Linked DNA regions of Homo sapiens. The protein of the gene in region 1 interacts with the protein of each later gene in a pairwise test. Each region holds a gene or a part of one and is shown on either strand. Other genes may lie near its edges.

Region 1 (3,500 bases):
CGATCTCTGGGGCCTTAGCATCTCAAATCCTGTGGATCCTCCTACTTACCCCTTAGAGAGCCTTACTGGGAAGTCAGTCATTAATGATGTGGCCAGTTATTTGCAAGTGGTAAGAGCCTATTTACCATAAATAATACTAAGAACCAACTCAAGTCAAACCTTAATGCCATTGTTATTGTGAATTAGGATTAAGTAGTAATTTTCAAAATTCACATTAACTTGATTTTAAAATCAGTTTTGTGAGTCATTTACCACAAGCTAAATGTGTACACTATGATAAAAACAACCATTGTATTCCTGTTTTTCTAAACAGTCCTAATTTCTAACACTGTATATATCCTTCGACATCAATGAACTTTGTTTTCTTTTACTCCAGTAATAAAGTAGGCACAGATCTGTCCACAACAAACTTGCCCTCTCATGCCTTGCCTCTCACCATGCTCTGCTCCAGGTCAGCCCCCTTTTGGCCTGTTTGTTTTGTCAAAAACCTAATCTGCTTCTTGCTTTTCTTGGTAATATATATTTAGGGAAGATGTTGCTTTGCCCACACACGAAGCAAAGTAAATAAAGACCACAAATGTTCAAATTCTAAGCCACTTAATAGCGTTTTGTACATTAAAAATGACAAGGGTTATTATACAAGTAGCCTTTTAAAAAATTCTCACACAGAACAGCTTTGTATTTAGACTTAAAGCTGTTGCTACTTTGCTAGTGACGTTTGTGTTAACAGTCAGTGCTCTAGGCCATTGATTGATTGATTGTCAGAATCAGAAGTGACTACACAAGAGCATTAGCCAGACTTTTCAGTGAGAACAGGTAACAGGCTGGCACCAGCACTTGGTACAGCACGTGGACAGGACGACGGAACCCAGAGTTCTCTGTCTCTCCTTCACAGCAGATGGACTCTTCTATAGGTGGCTGTTAATTTACACAAAGTTATATTCCAGAATCAGGAAGCCCCGCTGTCGCCAACACTTGAAGGAGAACTATGTTCCAGTTTTGGTGTTGAACTTCTCACGAAATACCTACTACCAAAAATTGTGACACCTTATTAGACACTTCCAAAGTACCCCCCAAAAGCTGTTTAAAAGACCATTCCATTTTTTCCTACACAAAGTGCATACTAAAATTTCACAATAATCATCTTCAGATGTACATTTTATTTAGTACATTTCACAGTTTTCAGTATTCAGTCCCTCATGAACATTTTATAGTCATCTCTTCGGCCCTGTTGTGAAATATGTGATTCCAGTTCAATTCAGAGTGTATGATTCCGCTTTTCACGCTGATCAAGTAAATTTATGGTGTCTCTTTTCTGATCTTCAACATTAAAAACTAAAAAGGAAAAACACATAATATTCTATAGAGTATTAAATGAGATACTAGCCCTAGGCAGGTCCCATTTTCTTATCAACTTCTAGAAACTGTCATAAAGAGGACTGCATCTCCCACAGCAACACTGTAATTGGGAGTTGTATTCCTCATCAAGGACAAGATGGCAACGGTGATATGGGAGGGGGACAGGGAAGTGCTGGGTAGAGAAGGGCAGGGTCACTGGCAAGGGCTCCACCCTCAGGCTTGTGCCCATGGACCTAATGAGAACAAGGACTCCTGTCTTCTTGCCCAAATGTTGCATTTTCCAAGACCACTCTGGCCTGCCATGCCACCCATTCTGTGCCTATAAAAACCCTGAGACCCCAGCGGGCACACACACAAGCGGCTGGACGTCAAGAGGAACACACTGGCAGAAGAACACATCGAAAGACGCTGGCAGGCCATTGATGGTGGAACGATTCGGACGCCAAGGGAAATTCGGCCAAGGACAGTAGGAGATCCCGGCTGCTGAGCAGCCAGACTCCAGAGGAAGACTACCTTCCCATGCTATCCCCCTTCTGGCTCCCCAGCCATCTGCTGAGAGCTACTTCCACCACTCAATAAATCTTGCATTCATTCTCCAAGCCCACATGATCTGATTTTTTCAGTACACTAGGGCAAGAACCTGGGATACAGAAAGCCCTCTGTCCTTGCGATAAGGCAGAGGGTCTAATTGAACTGATTAACACAAGCTGCCTGTGGACAGCTAAGCTGAAAGAACGCACTGCAACACACACCCAGTGGGGCTCCAGGAGCTGTAACCACTCAACCCTAGATGCTGCCGCGGGGTTGAAACCCATCCTCCCCACAACCTGTCCGTCCGCATGCTTCCCCTAGGGGTTTGAGCTGTGGGGCACTGAAGAAGAAAGCCATACCCCCATTGCATGCCCTGTGAAGGGGATAAGGGAACTTTTTTTTTTTTTTTTTTTTTTTTGAGACGGAGTCTGGCTCTATCACCCAGGCTGGAGTGCAGTCGTGCGATCTCAGCTCACTGCAAGCTCCACCTCCGGGGTTCACGCCATTCTCCCGCCTAAGCTTCCCGAGTAGCTGGGACTACAGGCGCCCGCCACCACGCCCGGCTGATTTCTTTTTGTTGTTGTAGTTTTAGTAGAGGCGGGTTTTCACCCTGTTAGCCAGGATGATCTCGATCTCCTGACCTCGTGATCCGCCCGCCTTGGCCTCCCAAAGTGCTGGGATTACAAGCGTGAGCAACCACGCCCAGCTGGAACTCCTCCCCTTTCAAAGTGTCCAAATGGATGACCAACAATGTGCCATGAAACAAAGCTGAAGCACCTAAAGATTCCATACTTGTTTGTAACAGTGACATAATGCCCCATATGCCATAGAAAATGGACAGTATCAAGTGCACTCATGACATTTTAAATATAATCACCACGCTCCTGTGCGGCGTGACTCCCTTGCTACTGCACTTCTAATGGCACACGCTGCCTCCTGAGAGCTGTCTGCAGCTTCAGACAGCTCTTGTGACTCCAAAGCTCTCCCTTTACAGAGCTGATGTCTGTATGTAGCTTCTACCATCTGATCTTACTCTATCCTTTTAACACACAGAAAACATAAAAAGGCACATCACAAATAAAACCTAAAACCACGGTCTTGATTTATAACTATGGCACATTAAATGGTAGTTTAATGACCATTAAATACCTGCCATATTAAATTAACGGTATCTGTTAAAGGCTCTTAATAAAGTTGGAGCTAATGCTTTTTTCTTCTAATTTCCCTGGAGCAAGTAAGGTCTCACTGTTTCAATGACACAATCTTAAAATAATGTTGAAGCTGATGTTGACATTTCTTCAGCTTCTTCAAAGAGCTGACAAGGCACTCATTTTCTTTACCTTACCTACTTACTTTGTTTAAAACCTTGCACAAGGTCAAGTCCTTAGGACACCTGAGTGTAGGGAATGAGAGATCCAAAAAGGCTTCACCGCAAAGCCCATCATTTAGTAGGAAACTAGGCCCAATTTAAAAGGTGGTTAGAGCCGGGGTGGTGGCTCACACCTGTAATCCCAACACTTTGGGAGGCTGAGGCAGGCAGATCACCTGAGGTCAGGATTTCGAGACCAGCCTAGTGGACATGGTGAAACTCTGTCTGTACTGAAAATACA
Region 2 (3,500 bases), 7.1 Mb from region 1:
TTGGAGGCAGCTGTGAGAACCCACTGCTGGCAGCCAACCTCCTGGGGCCCTCTCTGGGAGATCCTGTTTCCAGACTCATGAAAGATGCAGGCCGGGAGGCCGGGGTGCCGCAGGGCCACAGGGAGGGGCGGACATGGTATCCATCCAGGCCTCGACTTTCTGCAGGCTGGAAAAATACACGAGGCAGCCAATACAGAACCAGCAGAGGGCAGGGGCCTTGCTTTCATGCTGCGTGTTTTTCAGTTTCATCTAAAATTATGTGCCCAGGAGGAAGAGAGTGGGCGTCAGGGGACACTGGTGGGCTCTGCTGCTTACACCTGGGCCTGGGAATTCCAACAACCTGCCTTCAGCATCAGCTGCTCTCTAAGTAGCAAGTTCACGTGGACACATGTGCGCACAGGGACAGCCGCCTTTACCTGGGCCACCCAGCAGCGCTGTCCCTGGGGCCCTGGTGTGCTCTCGGGTCACTCCATGCATACCCCGAAGCCTCTATGGGGTGTCTACTTTGCCTCTCCCACCCTGGGCCTGACGCTGCACTCCCTGGGATTCCCCCAGGCCCCAGCACAGCCAGGGCACTCACCAAGTGAGAGGCTGTGTTCCTCTCCCATTCTACAGACCAGCAGATTGCAGCTTGGAGGAGGTTTGCCCAGAGCCACCTCCCAGGACTGTGTGTCCCTGTCCCACCACTGTCCACTTAGGGGCTTCCTCCCAGGCTGCCCAGGGTCTGGGTGAGGACAGCCCGGACACAAGGGCCTGTGCCTGGCACTGAGGTCGTCTCCAGTTCTGCTCTTGCGAAGCTGCCCAGTGGGCCACACCCCATCACACGTGTGCTCCGCAAGGTGCAGTGTCCCAGGGGCTGCTGGCCACAGTGGGCATGTGCTCCTAAGTTTCACAAACCTCAAGTGCCAAAGTGCCTTCCTTCAAGGCCACCCTTATGCTCATTCGGGTCTCCATCCCAGGACTTGGTGCTGGGAGAAGGCCAAGTGCAGACCCCGTGAGGATTTCCACCTTCTGGGGGCATCTACACATATATGTGCGTGTTCCTAGTCACAAAAGCACAGAAACACACATCCCCCAGAAAGACACACATAGACGTGAGACACACATGTGCACACAATACGCACACACAAATACACATGCACATACATACATATGCACACGTACATAAACAGACACACAAGCCCAGGCTAACTGTGTTGGCCTCTGGGCAGGAGGAAGAATTCCCTTTTTTTCTGAGCTCTGCAGAACCATTTAAATATTTCACAGCCATGCAGTCACGAGGAACACTCAGATCCATTAAAAAGCACCATCCGCGCAGAGCCTCCAGCTCCCCAAGCCTCAGCTCTCAGCACCCCCAGCCACGAGGAGCCTGTGCCCCTGCTGTCCTCATGCCCACTTAAGGTGGGTAAACTGAAGCCCAGCAAAGGCGGTTCCTTACCCAAAGCCACATAGCAAGTGAGGGCTTGGCTAGGATTTGAACCCAGGCCCCGGGGCTCAGAAGCTCTGGTAGCTGATGCCATTGTCCCTTAGGGGCTGAACTCTCAATGGCTCCCTGCTTCAGGCTCCAGCTGTGTCCGGACAACTAGCCCCACTTTGTGCCTCAGTCTTCCATGTGTACCACGAGGCTGTGGAGCAGATGCCCCAGGATGGCCTCTGAGCCCCGAGTGGCCAGCAAATGCCCTGACCATGCACCCCTGCTGGTGAAGGGCACTTCCAGCCCATCCGGCCATCTGCTTCCTGTCCAACCTGCAGCTAGGGAAGCTTCTGCATGCAGGTCAAGCCCTGGCTCACCACAGCCCAGCCCGTGGCCCTGACGCAAGCTCCCCCTCCGTTGGCCTCAGTCTCCCCCTCCGTATATCTAGGGTTGCACCTGGGAAACTCCTGCTTACCAAGGGAGAGGCTGTGTTCCTCTCCCATTCTACAGACCAGCAGATTGCAGCTCAGAGGAGGTTTTCCCAGAGCCATCTCCCAGGACTGTGTGTCCCAAAGCATAGGGCTGCCCCAGGATACAGCATAGCTGGCAACCACCCCAGGCAGCAGGCCACATTGGGAGCATCATGTGGAGGGGAGGGCAGCAGGGACAGTCTGCTTCCCTGTCCCTAACCTTGGTACTCTGGGCCTTGGAGCCCTGAGCTGACCACCACACAGGAGGGTCCCAGGGAGGACGATCCCACTCTCCCCCAGTCCTGGGCACTTGCCTCTATCTTGGGATGGGCCTGAGGGTGGCCGGGGGACCCAGCTACCACAGGTGAGGGAGCCCTGTGGTCCTGACCAGCCAGCAGGAGCTGCCAGGAGCTAAGCCCTGCTGAGACCAGTGCCCATGGCTTGGGCAGGGCAGGGAATAAACACCCTGGTTAATAGATTCCCAGAACCTCAGCAGCACTCGGGGCCTGGGGCCAGGCCAGATATATTTCCTCTGAAAGCTAGGAGGGAGGCTTGGTGAGGAGGTCAGCTCTGTGTAGGGGCGTGGCTGGCTCCTCATGCAACCTTCTGTGGACGGTCGGCCTCCCCACTGCAGGCTGCACATGTTGGGGCTGGGCCACACGGTCGGTCCTAGGGCCACTTCAGTGAGCATCCTCAGCTCAGGCAGGAGGGGCTGGCACAGAAGTGGGATATGAACCAGGCTTGCTGCATCCACCGGCCTGGCTCTGGCCATAGCATAATGGGTGTTCTGGCTCACCCAGGGCTTGGATGGGAGGAGACAGGGTCGGGGCTGTGGGCCCACAAATGTGGTGATGCATATCAGTCGCCCTTTCCAGGGGCCTGTGAGGAGTAGGGCTGGAAGCTGCCACAGCACCTCCTTTACCCCCCGAGTCCTGCCTCAACACTGACCACTCTATGCCTCAGTTTCCTCATTTGTAAAATGGGTAGACAAGGATGTGGAGGGGACTGAATGGGGTGGTCTCAGATGCCCCGTGGCTGGTGGAGCGCATGGCAGTGGGTGGCAGGGCTGTTTTCCTTGATGCCTGGCTCTCACTGTTTTGAAAGACTCTGCCTCCCCGACCAACTCCACTGACTCAAAAGCAGCTGAACAGGCTCACAAAACAGTCACACAGCAAAGAAAGGACAGCCTGGGGCACAGGTTCTCCTGTGCTGAGCAGGACCCAGGGGGACAACAGGGACGAGGTGCCTGCCCTGGGTGCCTGGGGGGTCCCAGTCTACACCTTGGCTGCTCGCAGCCTGTCCTGCTCACTGGCCCTAACCCTTGGACTCAGCAGGCATTGGCAGATGGTGGGGCGACCTGAAAATCAGGCACCCCTCTTCTACCCCACCATATGCTAGGACCTGCCTGGGGCTTCCGGCATCCCTTGTCTGACCCACCAGTGTGGGCATGAGCTGCTGTGCCCATTCCCCAGATGCCACACAGACAGGCAGGGCCTGGCACTGGAGCCCTGCACCGTCTCCTACCGGCCAGCCCAGGAAGCAGGCCCTGAGAGGGTCTCCCAGCTCCATGTCTGTGTTCCTGGCAGGAAACCCCAGCAAGACAGCAGGAAGTGCTG
Region 3 (3,500 bases), on another chromosome or scaffold:
AAAACCCCACAAGTTACAGACATAGTCTCATAAATCATGGTTTTGTATTTATCTATATTTGGAATTGATATTATAAGAGTTTTAAGTCACAATCTGAATCTCTGGGTTCCTCATCCTATCAATTAGGAAGTATTTGCTGAATGCAAAATTATTGTCAAAAGAGAAACTTGTAAACAAATTACAGACATACACAGAGTAACTGCTTTTTAATTTTTATTTTATTTATTTTTTTGAGACAGAATCTCGCTCTGTTGCCCAGGCTGGAGTACAGTGGTGCAATCTCCACTCACCGCAACCTCCACCTGCGAGGTTCAAGTGATTCTCCTGCCTCACCCTCCTGAGTAGCTGGGATTACAGGCACGCACCAGCACACTTGGCTGATTTTTTTGTATTTTCAGTAGAGACAGGGTTTTGCCATGTTGGCCAGGCTGGTCTCCTGACCTCAGGTGATCCACCCACCTGGGCCTCCCAAAGTGCGGGGATTACAGGTGTGAGCCACTGCACCTGGCCAGAGTAAGTGGTTTTTAATAGTCAAATTACCAACTATTTGAATAGACGGAAAGGTAGTTTTATAATCTGAGATTCTCAATCCTTGTGGCACAGTACCATCAAGGAGAGCTTTAAAAAAAAAAAAAAAAGCAAATGCCCCCAACTACCATAACCAATTAAATCAGAATCTCTCCAGGTCTGGGAATAGATAATTTCTAAAGCTCCTGAGATAACTAAAAGCCATCTTGAAGGCCTATCAATTTAAGTAAAACATGACCAATATGGTTACTCGTACTAACTTTATTAAAAAACAAAACAAAACAAAAAAGCCTCATATTCCTCCATTTGAGAACAGTACTTTCAAACACTGCTGGTGGGAATGCAAAATGCTTCAACTCATATGCAGAGAAATGTAATGGTGAAATTACCTAGCAATTTTACTGGTACGCTTCCCCAAGATAAACTGGCAAAAAATATGCAGTGACACATGCAAAATGCTGCTCCATGGTTCATCCTGGCATTATTCATAGCAACATACAGCTGAAAACAACTCAAATATTCACCAAATGGAGAGTGGTTAAATAAATTACAGTACATCCATAAAATGCAACACATAAAATGCAGTTGTACAAAGCAATGAGGAAGATGGCTACGTTCCGATATGGAGTGATCTCTAGGTTTAGGTTAAAAATGGAAATGTACAAAGCAGGCTGCATTTTATGTAAAAGGGGAGCATATAAAAATCTATATATTTACTTATATTTTTAAAAAGAAACAAAATATAAATCAAAACAATAAAAATGCTTATCTGTAGATGGAAGGGAAAAGGACAGAAGCCAAAATTCTGACTCTACCTTATTTTGCCTACATAAAACTACATTATACTCTCAACACAATTAAAAAATAATAAAAGAAAAAGCAATCCTAGCATTAGAGAACAAAAAAACCTAACTATTAAGTTGGTGGCTGTATGACACAAAAAAATTCTTTCAAGTGACTTTAAGCACAGTGTTTTGACATTACATTCTAGTGGGATATGTCCTAAAGACAAGGAAAACAAAAGCCCAAATTGCATTTAACAGTCTTATTGTTAGTAGTAATACTGTATTATTTAGAAACACATATATGTTGTGATACTTACATAAGTAACAACATCATTTGAAGAACCAAGATATTCAGCATAAGATAAAAATGATACAAGTATAACATAACCCAAAATTAGCCTGTATTTATAAATTTGAAATATCACCATTAATTCATGATTTACCTAGCACTACCTACTGAAAAGACCCAGAAACAATGACAACCAGTAGGAATGAACATGTCAGCATCCAAATTGTTGCTTCCAAATAGTATTATCTATTAAAAGGATCACGGTTCCTTAGAAACATGGCTGATTCCAGGCATGACGCAGGAAGTATACATGAGCCTGGGACGTCTTACTATTCCAGAAAACAAGAAACTATCAAAGATAAATGGGGGAAGGAATTAAAAAATACAGGAACCAACTTAGTAATTCCTAATGGCTACAGATGGCACAATGTGAACATCAAAAAAGAATGATGACTGTAACTGATCATAAATTCAATACATAAAAAAAACCTCAAAATAATAGACCTAGGCAATAATCATATGACAATGGCTGTTAGAACCATTAAATGAAAGGACAATGTGGATCTTTATAACAGATGGATTAATCTTTCAAAATCTAAATCAATTACTAATTTTAGCATCGCCAGAAAGACATTCTATACCTCCTAAAACGATGTAACAGGAAGGCCGCTATATCATTTAAGTATTCTTGTGAAAGAAACTGGACATGGATCTGACCAACCCTCTGGATCTGTGCCGTCCAATATGGTAGGCCACTAGCCACATATGGTCATTGAAATTTAATTTAAATTAAAATTAAAACATAGTTTCCGCCAGGCGCAGTGGCTCACGCCTGTAATCCCAGCATTTTGGGAGGCTGAGGCGGGTGGATCACCTGAGGTCGGGAGTTCGAGACCTGCCTGACCAACACGGAGAAACCCCGTCTCTACTAAAAATACAAAATTAGCCGGGCGTGGTGGCACATGCCTGTAATCCCAGCTACTCAGGAGGCTGAGGCAGGAGAATCGCTTGAACTTGGGAGGCAGAGGTTGTGGGGAGCTGAGATCACACCAACCTTGGCAAAAAGAATGAAACTCCATCTCAAAAAACAAACAAACAAAAACAAAAACAACAACAACAACAAAGCAAAACAGAGTTTCTCAGCCTCACTAGTCACCATCGAAGTATTCAATAGCTAGTGGCTACTGTAACGGATAGCACAGGTATGAAAAATTTCTATCACAGAAAGGTCTACTGCATAGCCTCACTACAGATCTAACCCACTCTACAGAAAATGCAGCGTATAGAGAAGCTAATTAAATGACATAAAGAAGCAACCTAACAAATCCAGAATGTTGGGAAATTCTGTAATGACCTGGTTTCTTCACCAAATAAATGGAGGGAAGAGAAAAAGTTACAGTGGTAACAGCTACAGACTTGAGAGAGTAAAACAACCAAAAATCAAACCGGATATGTGGATCCTGTCTGGATCCTGATTTGAACAACATAATCATAAACGAAACATTTCTGAAACTAGAGAAATTTAAACATGAATTAGATACAAATAAATTATTAATTTTATTAGGTGTGATATTGGCATTGTCACTGGAATAGCACTTATCTTTCAGAGATATATGCTAAAATGCTGACTTTTTAATGTGTGAAACACTATGTCAAAGACTGCTTTAATATACTCCAGGAAAAAGCAAAATAAAAAAAATCAAAAGCAATTTATTGCCAGGTGCGGTAGCTCATGCCTGTAATCCCAGCAATCTGGGAGGCCAAGGCGGGTGGATCACCTGAGGTCAGGAGTTCGAGACCAGCTTGGCCAACATGGTGAAACCTGGTCTCTACTAAGAATTCAAAAACTAGCTGGGCATGGTGGCGGGAACCTGTAATCCCAGCTACTCAGGAGGCTG
Region 4 (3,818 bases), on another chromosome or scaffold:
GCCGTGGAATGAAAGCCTTGGACCCTGAGTAGGAGTTTGCCTGGACAGTAGTGTGGGAAGACGGGCAGTGGAGAGGTGAGCAGCAGCAGAGGAAATGGCAAGAGGTGTGGTTTGGGATGTGGTCAGGGCTGGAGGCCACACTAGCATGGCTGGTGGGAGCCAAGTCCTTGAATACCCAAGAGTTTGGTGCCAGTCTTCTAGTGGGCCAAGTGCCTGTATTGGTTGTCCAAACCAGCTCAGACTGGCTCCCGTGCTCACATGTGGCTCAGTGAACTTGGTGACCTCAGGAGATGTGAAATAAAAGCAAACCCTCCCCACCACCCGCTGCCTTGGTGGTTTGGAGATCCAGATCCTCTCCACGCCTCTGTGTTGTGGCAGCCCCAGGGACAGTGAGCAGCTTAGCAGGGAGAGTGGGGTCCTTCGCTTAGTACATTACATCCCGAGCTTCCAGGGCAGGATAGACTAGGGGATGAAGGAAGGAAGGAAGGCAACACCCAGAGTACTCTGGAATCTGGTTTATTAGCTGGGGGTTGAAGTGGCAGGGAAGGACAGTGTTGGGGCGAGGCCTCCAGTCACCCAGTTCCTCCCCGGGCTGCTCCTCCCGACTGGACCAGGGTAGGTTGAGCTGCTGGGAGTGGAGTATCATGGGTGGCCCTTTCTGCAGGAGAAAAGAGCTTCCCTGCTGCGGAGGGGAGGCAGGCAGTGGGCAAGCCCCCCTAGCATCCGGTACAGGCAGCGTAGGCACAGATTTCACATGTGCCCGGGTCCTCAGCGATTTCCTCTGCACAACAGAGATGGAGCCTCGTGAGAACCAGCATTTCCTCGCGAGGCCCCTGCCGCCCTTGGCCCAGAGCTTGTACGTCACCACCCAGCCCCAGGAGAATCTCAGCAGGCCCGTACTCTGACCTACTGGGCTTTTCGCCCCAAACCAGGGCACACAGACCACTCAAACCAACCAATCAAAGCAGAGATTCCACCAGAAAGAGAGGAAACTAAGACCAGATGAATGGTCTTAGTTCCCAAACCTCAGCAGTTACAACTTGGAATTGAAGTGGGCATGGAACAGACCCACCAATCAGAGCCAAGCTCCCTAGTTCCACCAGTCAGAGCTGAGCCCTTCCTCCAAATCCCACCAATCAGAGCACATCTCTTCCTCAAGTGCCACCACAGTATTCCCGAACCCCACCAATCAGAGAGGAAGGAGGCTGCTCACCCAGCCTCTGAAGTATCTCCTGGGCATTGGGCTCCTTGCAGAGAGGCTTGAGTTCTTCTGGAAAGTTCGGGTTGCTACAGAGGATGGGAACCACAGGTTCACCAGGGATGGGTGCAAAGTTCCTGAGTTTCCCAACCCTGGGCTCCTGGGGCTCCTGGAGGTCTTTGAGCTTCTTCACTGACTCCAGAGAAAAGGAGAAATTTCCATCCTGGAAGAGAGAAGCCCAGAGCATGAGGCCAGGCTGCAGCCTGCTTCCTGGCTGTGCCCCCCGTGCTGGCCCCGGTCCAGCCCAGTGGTGCTCACAGGCAGTGTTCGTGGCATATGGGAGCCAGGCGATCCACAGTGGGGCACTGTGAGGGGCAGAGTTCAGGCCCCACGTCCTGGCTTGGCTCCGTGATGCTGGACACTCTGGAACCCGCAAATTCTGCATGTTGTATGGGGAATGGAGAAAATGGGTGTGAAGCTCCAGGAACACCATAGGTGCCTAATGAGTAGGAGCCAGTGTGCTGATTTTTAGGGAGAGGCAAAGGACCAGCACCCAGGCATCGTAGTTCCACGTGGCCAAGCCCAGGCTGTCTTTCCCCTGCCTGAGAGCGGTGCGGCTGATTACTGGGCCCCCAGCTCCAGCCTGCAGCCTGGTTTTGGTTTGAGAAGCAATAAAAGGCCTCCCGGAATCTGGCTTTGATAGAGATCAGGGCCCCCGCTAGGTGCCAGCTTGGCCTGTCGCCAGCATTGGCACTGGTAGGCATACCCATCTGTCAGGACCTCCAGGGTGTCCATGTGGTTCCTGGGACCCACTGAGGAGTAAGGTCTGGATTTAAATCCAGCTCCTGCACTTCCCACAGCCATGTGCCCATGGCCTGTTACAGAACCTTTGTGAGGCTCAGTTTTCCCCTCTGTAAAATGGGACTAATGATCCCTTTCTTCCAGGTTGATAGTGGAGCCACAGTGAGGGGCTGGGGAAGGAGCCGGCACATAGGACACTCAGTAAATTGGCCAACTCCCCGCCTTCCCCATATGGTTATTCCTCTTCCCTCCACTGGGTTTCTTTCTCCTCCAAAGTTGAAGGGAAAGGTGTGTGTGTGGCTGGACTGAGCAGGAGCTCCTCGAAGAAGGCCAAGCCTGGGACACACACCCTCAATCCAGCCCCAAAGAGGAGGTACTCTCTCAGGGGACCAGACCTGGGCACTAGGGGCAGGGAGCCAGCTGGGCCGGGGTAGGGACACAGGACTCACCTGCACGGTGACCCCTCCTGCCAAGGCGGCCCAGGCCCCAAGGAGGCACAGTGCGGAGAGCAGGAAGGCATTCATGGCAGCAGTGCCCGAGAGAGGGGTGGCTGTTCTGGATGCCAGGGGGAAGCGGCGGGACTTTTAAAGAGGGCAGGTTACTGAGTAACCTGGAAGCCTCTGTCAGTCTCATCTGCTCACCTGTCAGGCCTTATCAGATAAGGCTCGAGACAGCCCTAGGAGATAAGAGCCAGGCAGGGGGGGCCCCGGCCCCTCCCTGAGCACCTACTTTGACCCACAGCCGGGCTGGGTCCTGCATTCATTCACCAACAAGGCACATTCACTCACGACTGCCCTGTGCTGCTGTGTGGGGCCGGCAGACCCTGCCCTTGAGGAGGGGGGCCCAGCCCGACAGTGAAACGCAGGGCGATTAGGGTGGGGTGATCCTAGGATGAGGTGACGGGGCTGCACTGGGGGCTGAGCTCTGGAGAATGGGTGGAAGTTTTCCCAGAGAAGGGACTGAGGACAGAAGGCCATTTCATGCCAAAGGGACAGCCAGGAGGTGAGACGGGCCTGGAATATTCAGGGAAATGTGAGAAATTCCACGGGGGAGGCTGCAGGGCAAGTCAGGGTCTGGGTTTGATTGCCGCGACCTCAAGGAAGCCCTCCGCACAGCCTGGGTTCCGTTCCACCTACTGCCCAGTTGTGAGGCGTGTGAACTTGGGCCAATGCTTTCCCCTCTCTGAGTCTCGTTGTCCCTTGTGTCCCCTGTGGGAACCAAAAATAATACCTACCTCATGGGGTAGGTGTGTGGTAGGCATTACTGTTTGGAGAATCAAGTGAGGTTTTAAAAACATTTAGCTCAATGCCTGGCACACAGAAGGTGCTCAGCAGAGGTCCATTCCCATATTATTAGCAGCCACAGCAGCTCCTGGTCCTCCCTGGCCCCTCTGGTGACCTCCTGCCTGTCTGAGTCACAGGCTGTCCCCATCCTGTGCTGGTCCCCATCCTGTCCTGCCTGCCCTGCAGCCTCAGGGTGTCCTCGAATGAGCTCCTCCCCAATCCGCCCGCCCCCCTTGCCCCTGCAGATACAGTCCCCTTTCCGCGGATCTCACTGGGGAATTGCTTGGGTGTGCCCGCGCCCCTATAGACTCTGACCCCATTCAGACTGCGCCCTCAGGGCAGCGTGCATTCACTGTGTGCTGTTGTGAGCAGGAATCCCCAGGACACAGGAGAAAGGGTAGCCCTGGGATTGTCATCTTTCTACTCAGCCAACCTGGCCCGATGCCAGGACAGCCCTAGGGCGGGAGGTTGGGCAGGAATTCCTGGGTGGGGAGAGTCAACACTGAAGAGGGAATTGGAGAGAGCAGGGCCTGACC

What was found.
Region 2: the proteins of GOLM1 (region 1) and NINJ1 interact in binary tests that used the Homo sapiens proteins (3 or more experiments, as listed by UniProt).
Region 3: the proteins of GOLM1 (region 1) and TMPO interact in binary tests that used the Homo sapiens proteins (3 or more experiments, as listed by UniProt).
Region 4: the proteins of GOLM1 (region 1) and GUCA2A interact in binary tests that used the Homo sapiens proteins (3 or more experiments, as listed by UniProt).

The regions. Positions count from the first base shown.
Region 1 is NC_000009.12:86,026,559-86,030,058, forward strand, and holds part of GOLM1 (Golgi membrane protein 1), read right to left. Parts: intron 1,336-3,500; coding exon 1,259-1,335; 3' UTR 1-1,258.
Region 2 is NC_000009.12:93,127,752-93,131,251, forward strand, and holds part of NINJ1 (ninjurin-1), read right to left. Parts: intron 1-3,500.
Region 3 is NC_000012.12:98,539,590-98,543,089, reverse strand, and holds part of TMPO (thymopoietin), read right to left. Parts: intron 1-3,500. UniProt on the Homo sapiens protein: May help direct the assembly of the nuclear lamina and thereby help maintain the structural organization of the nuclear envelope. Possible receptor for attachment of lamin filaments to the inner nuclear membrane.
Region 4 is NC_000001.11:42,162,190-42,166,007, forward strand, and holds GUCA2A (guanylin precursor), read right to left. Parts: upstream 2,557-3,818; 5' UTR 2,524-2,556; coding exon 2,449-2,523; intron 1,422-2,448; coding exon 1,214-1,421; intron 782-1,213; coding exon 717-781; 3' UTR 501-716; downstream 1-500.